2 separate regions of the Homo sapiens genome follow, and region 1 is linked to region 2. The links come from fine-mapping of genetic effects on gene expression. Tissue or cell type: whole blood. Region 2 holds a variant in brackets; the other region holds the start of a gene. All regions are shown on one strand. Distances are between the middles of the regions.

The links. PIP is the estimated chance that this variant, and not a neighbour inherited with it, causes the effect.
Region 1: ZNF555 starts here. The variant in region 2 is the best candidate, but not a certain one, in a credible set for the expression of ZNF555 in whole blood (INTERVAL, PIP 0.79).

Annotation. Positions count from the first base shown.
Region 1 is chr19:2,838,181-2,843,551 of GRCh38, reverse strand. ZNF555 (zinc finger protein 555) reads right to left here and starts at 2,077. Exons shown (of 4, transcript NM_152791.5): 1 at 1,977-2,077. The coding sequence starts at 1,979. RefSeq lists silencers at 1,697-1,746, 1,787-2,086, 2,307-2,496, 2,507-2,616.
Region 2 is chr19:2,863,854-2,869,224 of GRCh38, reverse strand. ZNF556 (zinc finger protein 556) reads right to left here and starts at 1,890. Exons shown (of 4, transcript NM_024967.3): 1 at 1,801-1,890. The coding sequence starts at 1,803. The variant G/C (reference allele first, on the strand shown) is at 2,745.

The DNA of each region.
Region 1 (5,371 bases), 26 kb after region 2:
TATTCATTTTTCTGCACGTATGGTGGAAAGGAGATTTTCTCTGTTTCTCTGAGACTCTTCTCCCCAGTAACATTTTGAAGTTTAGGCCCTGGAATCCTATTTATTGTCATTCAAAAGAAAAGAACAAGGCTGGTCGAGGAGGGAGAATCACCTGAGCTCAGGAGTTCGAGACCAGCCTGGGTAACAGAATGAGACCCCATCCCTAGAAACAAAAAAATACAAAAGCTTAGGCATGGCGGCACACACCTGGAGTCCCTGTGTTCAGAAGGCTGAGGCAGGAAGATTGCTTGAGCCCAGGAGGTGGAGGCTGCAGTGAGCTGTGATCGCACCAGTGCACTCCAGCATGGGCAACAGAGCTCCCAAAAAAATAATAGTAATAAAAGAAAACAGAAAATAACAGATCTGAGAAACGACACACACTCCAGGGAATGTTTAACAAATGGAATGTAAGACACAGATTTTAATTTTTTTCCTGAAATTCACCCCGTTGGAAGTTTTTTTTTTTTTTTGAGACGGAGTCTCGCTCTGTCACCCAGGCTGGAGTGCAATGGCGCGTTCTCAGCTCACCGCAACCTCCGCCTTCTGCGTTCAAGTGATTTTCCCGCCTCAGCCTCCCGAGTAGCTGGGACTACAGGCACCCGCCACCACGCCCAGCTAATTTTTGTATTTCTAGCAGAGACGGGGTTTCTCCATGTTGGCCAGGCTGGTCCCCAACTCCTGACCTCAAGTAATCTGCTCCCCTCGGCCTGTCACAGTGCTGGGATGACAGGCTTGAGCCACCGCGCCCGGCCTGGAAATATTTTATCTTCCAACTTCTACTAATTAAATGTACGTTTCACTTCCTAAAAACTGCTGACTCGAAAAAAGGAAAATCTTTTCACAGTGACAAACCCAGGGAGGGGTCAAGTCTGGCCAGGCTACCACGACGGACGCCCTCCCACCCCCAACTCAGGTGTTGCCTCAGCAAGGAATCCCATTGCTAGTACTCAAAACAGAACTGAGAAACGTCTTCAAATCCACACTTTCTAGGGAACCGTGAAAGAATATATTTCCGTGGTTTTAGCCCCCTCGTTTGCAGTCAGTTGCTACAGCAGTCCGAGGACACTAATGCACCAGCCTCCCGGGCGTCCCCGCTGTGGGTCTGCGTGCGTTTGCTTTTGGGGTCCTCGCTCTCCCTTGTTTCTCTAGTCTTTTCAGTTACTTTTCTTCCTTGTGTGTGAGAGCCCAGGGACCAGGAACCCTTGTTTTTTTTCCCCTTACCTACCCCAGGCATCTTGGGGTCAGAGGGGACAAGAAGTCCTCAAGAAGGAAAACCGGGACTCAGGGGAGGAAACCTCGCACGCCCCAGGGGCTGCCTTTGCAGGTGGGGGCGTCTCCGCCCCCGCCGAGGCCCCACCGCTCCCGGGCTGTCCCGGGAGGAACCCAGGGTCCCCCAGAGACCGCGGCCGGAGGCGCGGGGCCTCCAAGGAGCTGAGCCGCGGGAGCGCGAGCGGAGGCGGCACCGACCAGGGACCCGCACCCCAGGAGGCACCGCGGCGTCGGCCCCAGGGCGGGTCCCGGGGGAGCCTGGACCGCACCTCGGGGTCTCGGGCGACTCTGCCTCCCGCGGCCCGGGGGTCCCGAAGCCGCAGCGAAACGCTCCGAGGCGTCGCGGCCCCGGGCGGGGCGTGGGGGGTCGGGAGCGCAGGGACGCGGGGACCCCGGGACGACGGGGACGGAGTCGGGCTCCGGGCGCCGCTCCCCGCTCTGCAGCCTTGGGGCCAGAGGCGGGCGGGGACCCGGAGCTCGGAGCGCCCTAGCCGCGACCTCAGCGCGGGAGGCGGGGCCGGGCGGGACCCCCGGGGCCCAGGCTCCCGTCCTGCGCCGCCCTCGCCGGGGCCGCCCCCCGCGTCCCTCAGCTCCCCCCAAGCCGCGGTCTCGGGCGGTCGCCGGTTCCTGCTGCCCCGCACCGGGATCCTCTCCTGCGCCACACTCACCATGTCCCGGGGCGATTTCTTCGCTACCGGCGCAGGTGAGCGCGACAGGAACCGGGACGCCAGGGACCGCTAGGGGCAGGCGGGGCACTCACGGCTAGGACAGAGGCGTCCCGTCCCAGGGGCCTGATTAGACAGAGCTCGGGAAGCCGCGCTTCTGATTGGACAGTGCTGCCAACGTCGGCGACTCTGATTGGAGAATTCCCCAGTCCGTCCCCTGGCGCTGTAAATTGGGCAGTTCCCCGGATTCCGATTGGGCGTCCCTCATTGGATACTTGTCTCGGCCCCGCCCCCGCCCGTCCTGACTGGGTAGTTCCCTAGGGCCCACCCCCTGCCGGTGAGTGACGGGAGCGTTGCGAACACGCGTGGCTGTCCCGCCCTGCGGGGACACTGGCTTCTGGGCGAACTGGTTTCAGCCCGGGGCGGAATCGCCCTCTCCCCGCAGTTCGGGCGCCCCGCCCGCGTCCTCCTCCGGGACGGGCGTGGGAACTCCAGACTAGTTTCCTCACGAGGCGACCCCTTGTCCGGACAGGAGGTGGATGCAAGCGGGCGGCCCGGGCCTGGCAGGGCGAACGGGGGCTGGGCGCCGGGTCCGAAGGGCCGAGACCTACGTGGGGGCGGGACCCGCAGACGTGACGTCATCGCGCTGCGGGCGACATGGAGACCCCGCCCAGGGGGCTGCGAATCCGGAGACCCGGTCTGGGGGAGGCCGAACCCAAAGCCTGGCAGGGGGCAGGAGCTTTGCTCAAATCAACCAGAAGATATGAGATGTTCATTAAAACCCTCACATTTGGCTGGGCGCAGTGGCTCACGCCTGTAATCCCAGCACTTTGGGAGACCGAGGTGGACGGATCATCTGAGTTCAGGAGTTTGAGACCATCGTGGCCAATATGGTGAAACCCTTTCTCTACTAAAAATACAGAAATCAGCCCGGCGTGGTGCCGGGCGCCTGTAATCTCAGCTACTGGGGATGCTGGGGCAGGAGAATTGCTTGAACCCGAGAGGTGGAGGTTGTAGTGACCCGAGATCGCCCCACTGCAGTCTAGCCTGGGCGACAGAGTGAGACTCCATATTAAAAAACAAAAAAACTCTCAAGTTCATATTTTAAACTCTAAGGAAAATGTTTTCAGATCATTTTTTTAAGTACATCCCCCCAAAATTTGGAAGATTGAAAAGCTGGCCGGGCGCTGTGGCTCACGCCTGTAATCCCAGCACTTTGGGAGGCCGAGGCGGGCGGATCACCTGAGGTCAGGAGTTCAAGACCAGCCTGCCCAACATGGCAAAACCCTGTCTCTACTAAAAATACAAAATTAGCCGGGCGTGGTGGCGCGCACCTGTAATCCCAGCTAGGGAGGCTGAGGCAAGAGAATCGCTTGAGGCCGGGCACGGTGGCTCACGCCTGTAATCCCAGCACTTTGGGAGGCCGAGGCGGGCGGATCACGAGGTCAGGAGATCGAGACCATCCTGGCTAACACGGTGAAACCCCGTCTCTACTAAAAAATACAAAAAAATTAGCCAGGCCTGGTGGCGGGTGCCTGTAGTCCCAGCTACTCGGGAGGCTGAGGCGGGAGAATGGCGTGAACCCGGGAGGCAGAGGTTGCAGTGAGCCGAGATCGCGCCACTGCACTCCACCACTCCAGCCTGGGTGACAAAGCGAGACTCCGTCTCAAAAACAAACAAACAAACAAACAACAACAACAAAAACAAAAAGAATCGCTTGAACCCAGGGAGGCAGAGGTTGCAGTGAGTCAAGATCATTCCACTGCACTCCAGCCTGGGGGACACAGCAAGACTCCGTCTCAAAAAAAAAAAAAAAAAAAAAAGGAAGTCTATAATATTGCACAACAGGAACGTATCTAACGCCACTGAACTTTAGACTTAAAAATGATGAACATGGTAAATATTTGTTATTTGTATTTTACTACAATTTTTAGATGTTATATTTAAAACAGAAAAGGCTATATTTCTAAGGATATTGAATCCCTATTTTAACTGATATAAGAAAAACACGCAAAAGTTTAAATGAATTGGATTGAACCTTAGGAGGGAAGTGTTTTTTTTTTAAATTTTTGGTTTTTTCAGTCTTGCTCTGTCACCCAGGCTGGAGTGCAATGGCAGGATCCCGACTCACTGTAAACTCCACCTCCCGGGTTCAAGTGATTATCGTACCTCAGCCTTCCGAGTAGGTGAGACTACAGACCTGCCCCGCCACACCCAGCTAATTTTTTTGTTTTTTGTTTTTTTGAGACGCAGTTTCGCTCTTGTTGCCCAGGCTGGAGTGCAATGGCGAGATCTCGGCTCACTGCAACCTCTGCCTCCCAGGTTCAAGCGATTCTCCTGGTTCAGCTTCCCGAGTAGCTGGGACTACAGGCACCTGCCATCATGCCTGGCTAATTTTGTATTTTTAGTAGAGACGGGGTTTCTCCGTGGTGGTCGGGCTGGTCTCGAACTCCCAACCTTATGTGATCCACCCGCCTCGGCCTCCCAAAGTGCTGGGATTACAGGTGTGAGCCACCACGCCTGGCCTACTAATTTTTATTTTTTTAGTAGAGATGAGGTTTCACCATGTTGGCCAGGCTGGTCTCAAACTCTTGACCTCAGGTGATCCACCTGCCTCGGACTTGCAAAGTGCTTGGATTACAGGTGTGAGCCACCACACCCAGCCTTCAATTTTTTTTAAAAAAAGGAAAAACGATTGTGATAGGCCTGAAAACACTGAATACACTTAATAGACAGGGGCTGAAAACCAAACACAGTTAATGGTTATTCATTTCAGAAAACTCCATAGCTTAAGTGGTTGTTCAAATTCTGATATTGACATTTCATTTAGAAACAATTTTTAAAATTTATTTTTATCTTTCCTAGGAAGGTTTTACACACTTTTATAAAAATTAATGTTTAGAGGACTGACATAGGAAAGCAGCTTCCAGTTAAAAATAGTGTGCCCGGGCTCGGTGGCTCACGCCTCTAATCCCAGCACTTTGGGAGGCTGAGGTGGGTGGACAACCTGAGGTGAGGAGTTTGAGACCAGCCTGGCCAACATGGTGAAAGCCCCATCTCTAATAAAAATACAAAAAAAATTAGCCGGGCGTGGTGGCGCATGCCTGTAGTCCCAGCTGCTTGGGAGCTGAGGCAGGAGAATCGCTTGAACCCAGAGGCAGAGGTTGCAGTGAGCCGAAATCTCACCATTGCACTCCTGCCTGGGCAACACAGTGAGACTCCATCTCAAAAAATAAAATATAATTGCTGGAGGGAGATAACAAGACTGAAAACAGTACAGTCAGGAGACTTCTAAGTCAACCCTTCTCAAGAATATGCTGGAAGTTACAGATGCTTTCCCCAAAAAACACATCAATGCACCAGCACACAAAGTTGTTCTCAAAGTTGTTCACAGAGCC
Region 2 (5,371 bases):
GACCAGGCTCTTGGGGAGAGGATGAGGATATACTGCAGTGCAGCTGAGAATAAGGCATTCAAGTGGACACACATGTAATAATGTCTTTAGGGGCACTGGTCACAATGGAAAAAATTTGAAAATACCCGAATAGTCACTAGCAAGCAGTGGAATTAATGAACACTAACAATATATCCCTATGAGTGAATATAAAAGAGTGATAAAGGGGCCAGGTGTGGTGGCTCACGCCTGTAATCCCAGCACTTTGGGAGGCTGAGGTGGGTGGATCAGCTGAGGTCAGGAGTTCGAGACCAGCCTGGCCAACATGGTGGAACCCCGTCTCTACTAAAAATACAAAAATTAGCTGGGTGTGGCCACACGTGCCTGTAATCCCAGCTATTCGGGAGGCTGAGGTAGGAGAATCGCTTGAACCCAGGAGGCGGAGGTTGCAGTAAGCAGAGATCGCGCCATTGCACTCCAGCCTGGGTGACAGAGCGAGGCTCCATCTGAAAAAAAAAAAAAAATTAGCTAGTCATGGTGGCACATGCTGCCTGTAATCCAAGCATTCTGGGAGGCCAAGGCGGGTGGATCACCTGAGGTCAGGAGTTGGAGACCAGCTTGGCCAACATGGTAAAACCCTGTCTCCACTAAAAATACAAAAATTAGCTGGACGTGGTGGCACACACCTGTAGTCCCAGCTGCTGGGGAGGCTGAGGCAGGAGAATCAATCGCTTGAACTCAGGAGGCGGAGGTTGCAGTGAGCCGAGATCGCGCCACTGCACTCCAGCCTGGGTGACAGAGCAAGACTCCGTTTCAAAAAATAAAAACAAAAAATAAAAGAACAGAATTATCATCTATCACAAATTCTCCATCCTGGAAAAGGAGAATAACTGATATTTTAGCGAGTTTTTGTAATTCACCAAATTATATACCAAACATTTTTTTCTTGTAGGAATGTATTCATTTCGGGGCGTGTCATAATAAAAGAGAGATTTTCTCTCTTTCTCTGCGATTCTTTTTCCCGGGAGCCCCGTCAAGGGCTAAGCCCTGGAATCCCATTTGTCATCACCGAAAATAAAACAACAGATGTGAGAAACTTAACCACACGGGCAAAAAAGGAACAGAAAATAAAAAGAAAAAAAAAAGGCACGCTAGAATTTTTAACAAATGGAATGTAAGACGAGAACTTTATTTTTTTCTGAAATTCACCTCCTTGGAAATATTTTATCTTTCAAACTCTATTATTTACTGTATGTTCCATTGACTGAAAAAATCTGAGGCTCAAGTAACCAAATCAATCTTTAGAAGGAGAGAGGCCCAGGCAGGGGCGGCTGGGCTGGAGTCCGGCCTGCGGGCCTTTGGGGTCAGGCCAGCCCGTGCCGCCACGTGGAGCGCCCGCACCACCTGTCCACCCCTCGCCCCTCCCAGGGACGTGGGCCTGGGCCCAAAGTCTGCATCCAAAGCGCATTCTGCTTTGGGGCTGTTGCACCGCCTCGCTGGGGTGAGGTTTTTTTTTTTTTTGTTTTGTTTTTTGTACTTTGGGTTAGTTTTTCTTCCAATTAACTTCGCGAGACCCCACAGGGCAGGAGTCATTTCTGCCTTTTTTTCCCCTCCATCCCAGCGTCCTGACAACTACGACTTTCCAGGGAATGAAGACTGGGGCAGGGGAGGAAACTCCCCGCAGGACCCGGGGGTGACACAGGGACAGAGGCTGCATGGGGGTTCCGGGCGGCTCCCCCGGGAGTTTCAGCGTGTTCTGGCCGCTTCCAACCCTCCCCTCCCAGGGCTCCGGCTCCGGCTCGGCTCCTGCCCTGCACTCACCATGTCCTGTCCGTTCCTGAGCTCTTTGAGGAGCTCCCTGCTCCTCGCAGCCGGTGCAGGTGAGCACGACGGGGACACCTGTGGTCACTCAGGGCAGGCCGGGTGTGCTCTGCAGGGAGGACAGCAACGCCCCGCCCCTGGGGCTGTGATTGGATGGTTCTCTTCTCTGCTCATCTCTGATTGGAGAGTTCACCAGTCACATCCCAACTCCCCTGATTGGACAGTTCTTTAGACTCTGCCCCTCCTCTTCTGGTTGGTCAGCTTGCTATCCCCTGAGCTCCCCTGATTGGGCAGTTCTTCAGGCCCCACCCCAGCTTTCCTAATTGGTCATGTTTCCACGCCCTGCCTCAGCTCCTTTGATTTGACAGGTCTCCAGGCTCTGCCCCAACCCCCCTGATTGACAGTTCTCATCCGGATGCTCCACCTCAACTCCCCTGATTGGTCAGTTCTCTAGGCCCCACCCCAGCTGCCTGATTGGTCAGTTTTCAGGTCTCGGGTCCTGCAGGCAGCAGCCCCCATCCACGGTGGTCTCCTTCCTGAAATGAAAGTGGTACTGACTTAGAGGGAAACCTGGGCCCTTGGGGTATCCACCGTAGAAAAAAGCAGCTTCTTCTGTCCTCAGTCTGTTGTCAGATTCCATGACACTGGAGGAGGTCCCCTCTCTCTCCTGACCAGTAGACACCTGGGGAGGCCCATGGGGTCAAGTGAGTGACCAACGAAAGCTTTACCATTCCCTAACTAGGGTCAGCACAATTGCTAGAACTGAACTCTTGAGCCATTAGCAATGGTCTAGCCAGCCGGGCGCGGTGGCTCATGCCTGTAATCACAGCACTTTGGGAGGCCAAGGTGGGTGGATCACCTGAGGTCAGGAGTTTGAGACCAGTGTGGCCAACATGATGAAACCCTGTCTTTACTAAAAATACAAAAAATTAGCCGGGTGTGGT[G/C]GTGGGTGCCTGTAATCCCAGCTACTCGGAGGCTAAGGGGGAAGAATCGCTTGAACCTGGAAGGCGGAGGTTGCAGTGAGCTGAGATTGCCCCACTGCACTCAGCCTAGGCAACAAGAGGGAAACTCCGTCTCAAAAACAACAACAACAACAAAAACATAGAAAACAAAACAAAACAAAAAAACCGAAAACACACTTAAAAAAAACTGTGGCAACAACTGTATCCTAGGTCAATATTTTGAGGTTAAAGCACTCTGGGGATATTTTGCCTCACAGTTTCTCAAGTAAAAATCAAGGTCACGAATATCTGTGTACCTATGAAAACTCAAACACCACAGCTGAGCGCTCAATGTGCAGGCAGATGAATAGTCTACAGGCAAATGACATATAATCAAGGAGGCATAATCCCTGGAAGCCTGTTGGTAGGGCTGAGAGCAAATAGATTTTATAGGGTCCCCGCCCACCTTTGCAGAGGCTATTCCGTATACTGTGATCACGGAAGCCACTTAAATGCAAATATTCCTTACCAATCCCACCAGACGTTCTCCTGCTGAGCCACAATACAGGGTTTCACCAAGACCCGCCCTTCCCTTGGGGTTACAGATGCTACTGACAGTGATCAAGGTGCTCAGTTCTTTTCTCAAACGACACTGTAGCGAGATTGATAAGGAATCAGAGAGACCGATGGGGTTCAGGAGGATATTTATTATTTAGCTGCACCAGCCCAGTCCGATTAACACCCAAAGGACTGAGCCCTGAACAAAGAGTTAAGTTACCTTTGAAGCATTTTGTGGGGCCGGGGGAGATCTGTGCAGGGGGAAGCATATTACAGAAGCGAGAGACAAAGAGAGTTATTCAATTAATTGAGACGTGCATTACATCATTTCTTACTTTTCAAGGCAAAACATGTTTTGCAACTTGAGTTTATCTGTCTAGTGAACTTGCAGCTGCACAACTAGGGAAACAGGGCCTTCACAATGCCTGGGAAGGGAGGAGAGATAAGGCTCACTAGCCACAGAAAAACAGGCAGTTAATTTTTAAAAGACTCCAGCTCTTTCTTGTTCTCAGGGGGAATTGGGTTTTCTTACATACAACTGAGTTTCTGCTTACACATTCTTTAATCTGTTTTAATTCCTGTTCCAACACAACACTGGGCTCTTTTATTTATTTATTTATTTATTTATTTTATTTTAATTTTTTGAGATGGAGTCTCGCTTAGTCACCAGGCTGGAGTGTAGTGGTGCAATCTCAGCTCACTGCAACCCCTACCTCCCGGGTTCAAGCGGTTCTCCTGCCTCAGCATCCCCAGTAGCTGGGACTACAGGTGCCCGCCACTACGCCCAGCTAATTTTTGTATTTTTAGTAGAGACAGGGTTTCACCATGTTGGTCAGGATGGTCTTGGTCTCTTGACCTCGTGATCCACCTGTCTCAGCCTCCCAAAGTGCTGGGATTACAGGCATGAGCCACCATGCCTGGCCAACGCTGGGCTCTTGAACAAGGCGTTCAAAGCAACTTTCTGCTCTCTTATACTCTCGGGCTAGAGGCCTCCTAGAACTGATGGCTCAAACAAACCTTGCTGACATTACAGACCACACATGGTCTTCTAAACGGGTCTTCTCCACTGTGTGCAGCTTTACTTAGGCTCGACCCCAGCCTTTAGGGCCCCCTACTTTGTCCTGATCATCAGACTTACTGGCACCTTAGAGTACAACCCATAACACATGCTTCTTTCTTTCTTTTTCTTTTTCTTTCTTTTTTTTTTTTTTTTTTTTTTTGAGACAGAGTCACGCTCTGTTGCCCAGGCTGGAGTGCAGTGGCACGATCTGGGCTCACTGCAAGTTCTGCCTCCAGGGTTCACGCCATTCTCCTGCCTTAGCCTCCCGAATAGCTGGGACTACAGGCGCCTGCCACCATGCCCGGCTAATTTTTTGTGTGTTTTTAATAGAGACAGGGTTTCACCGTGTTAGCCAGGATGGTCTCGATCTCCTGACCTCGTGATCCGCCCGCCTCAGCCTCCCAAAGCGCTGGGATTACAGGCGTGAGCCGCCGCGCCCGGCCACCATCTTTAGTTTCTACAGGAGAACTACACATCCGATGCTTCTAGCTTCCTTGGCTATTGTTTTAGGCTACCGTTACCTTCTTGCTTATCAAGTTGCATATTTACTTCTTGGGGCTAACTAGGTGACTGAAATTTACCTTGAAGAAAAGCAAGATTGTTCTTTATTTCTATGCCTGGGAGATCCACAGGCCGTGAAGAGGGAGTCCCTGCTCCATCTCACACCCACTCCCAAACCTCCTCTTGAGACAAGTGTGCTAATTTTCTGCTCATTGCACATACTTTTTGGGCCACCACGGGCACTGCCTTAGGCACACATGATGTCATCCTGTCAACTCAAACCATGAAGCCATCGGAAAACGTTCAGCACACTCTAACCACACGCAGCAGAGAGCTAATGCTTTAGATGCTTTCCGTGAAGGACAACGCTCCCTGGCAGACTCGACAGCTGATGACTGCTTGGCTCCGGGCTATTTGTTGGCCAGCCAGGGAGAGTTATGTTCCCTTAAAGGGGCTGCTGGCTATACGTGGGTACTGGAAAGTTTCCACAAATAACAATTGTTGGGGACCA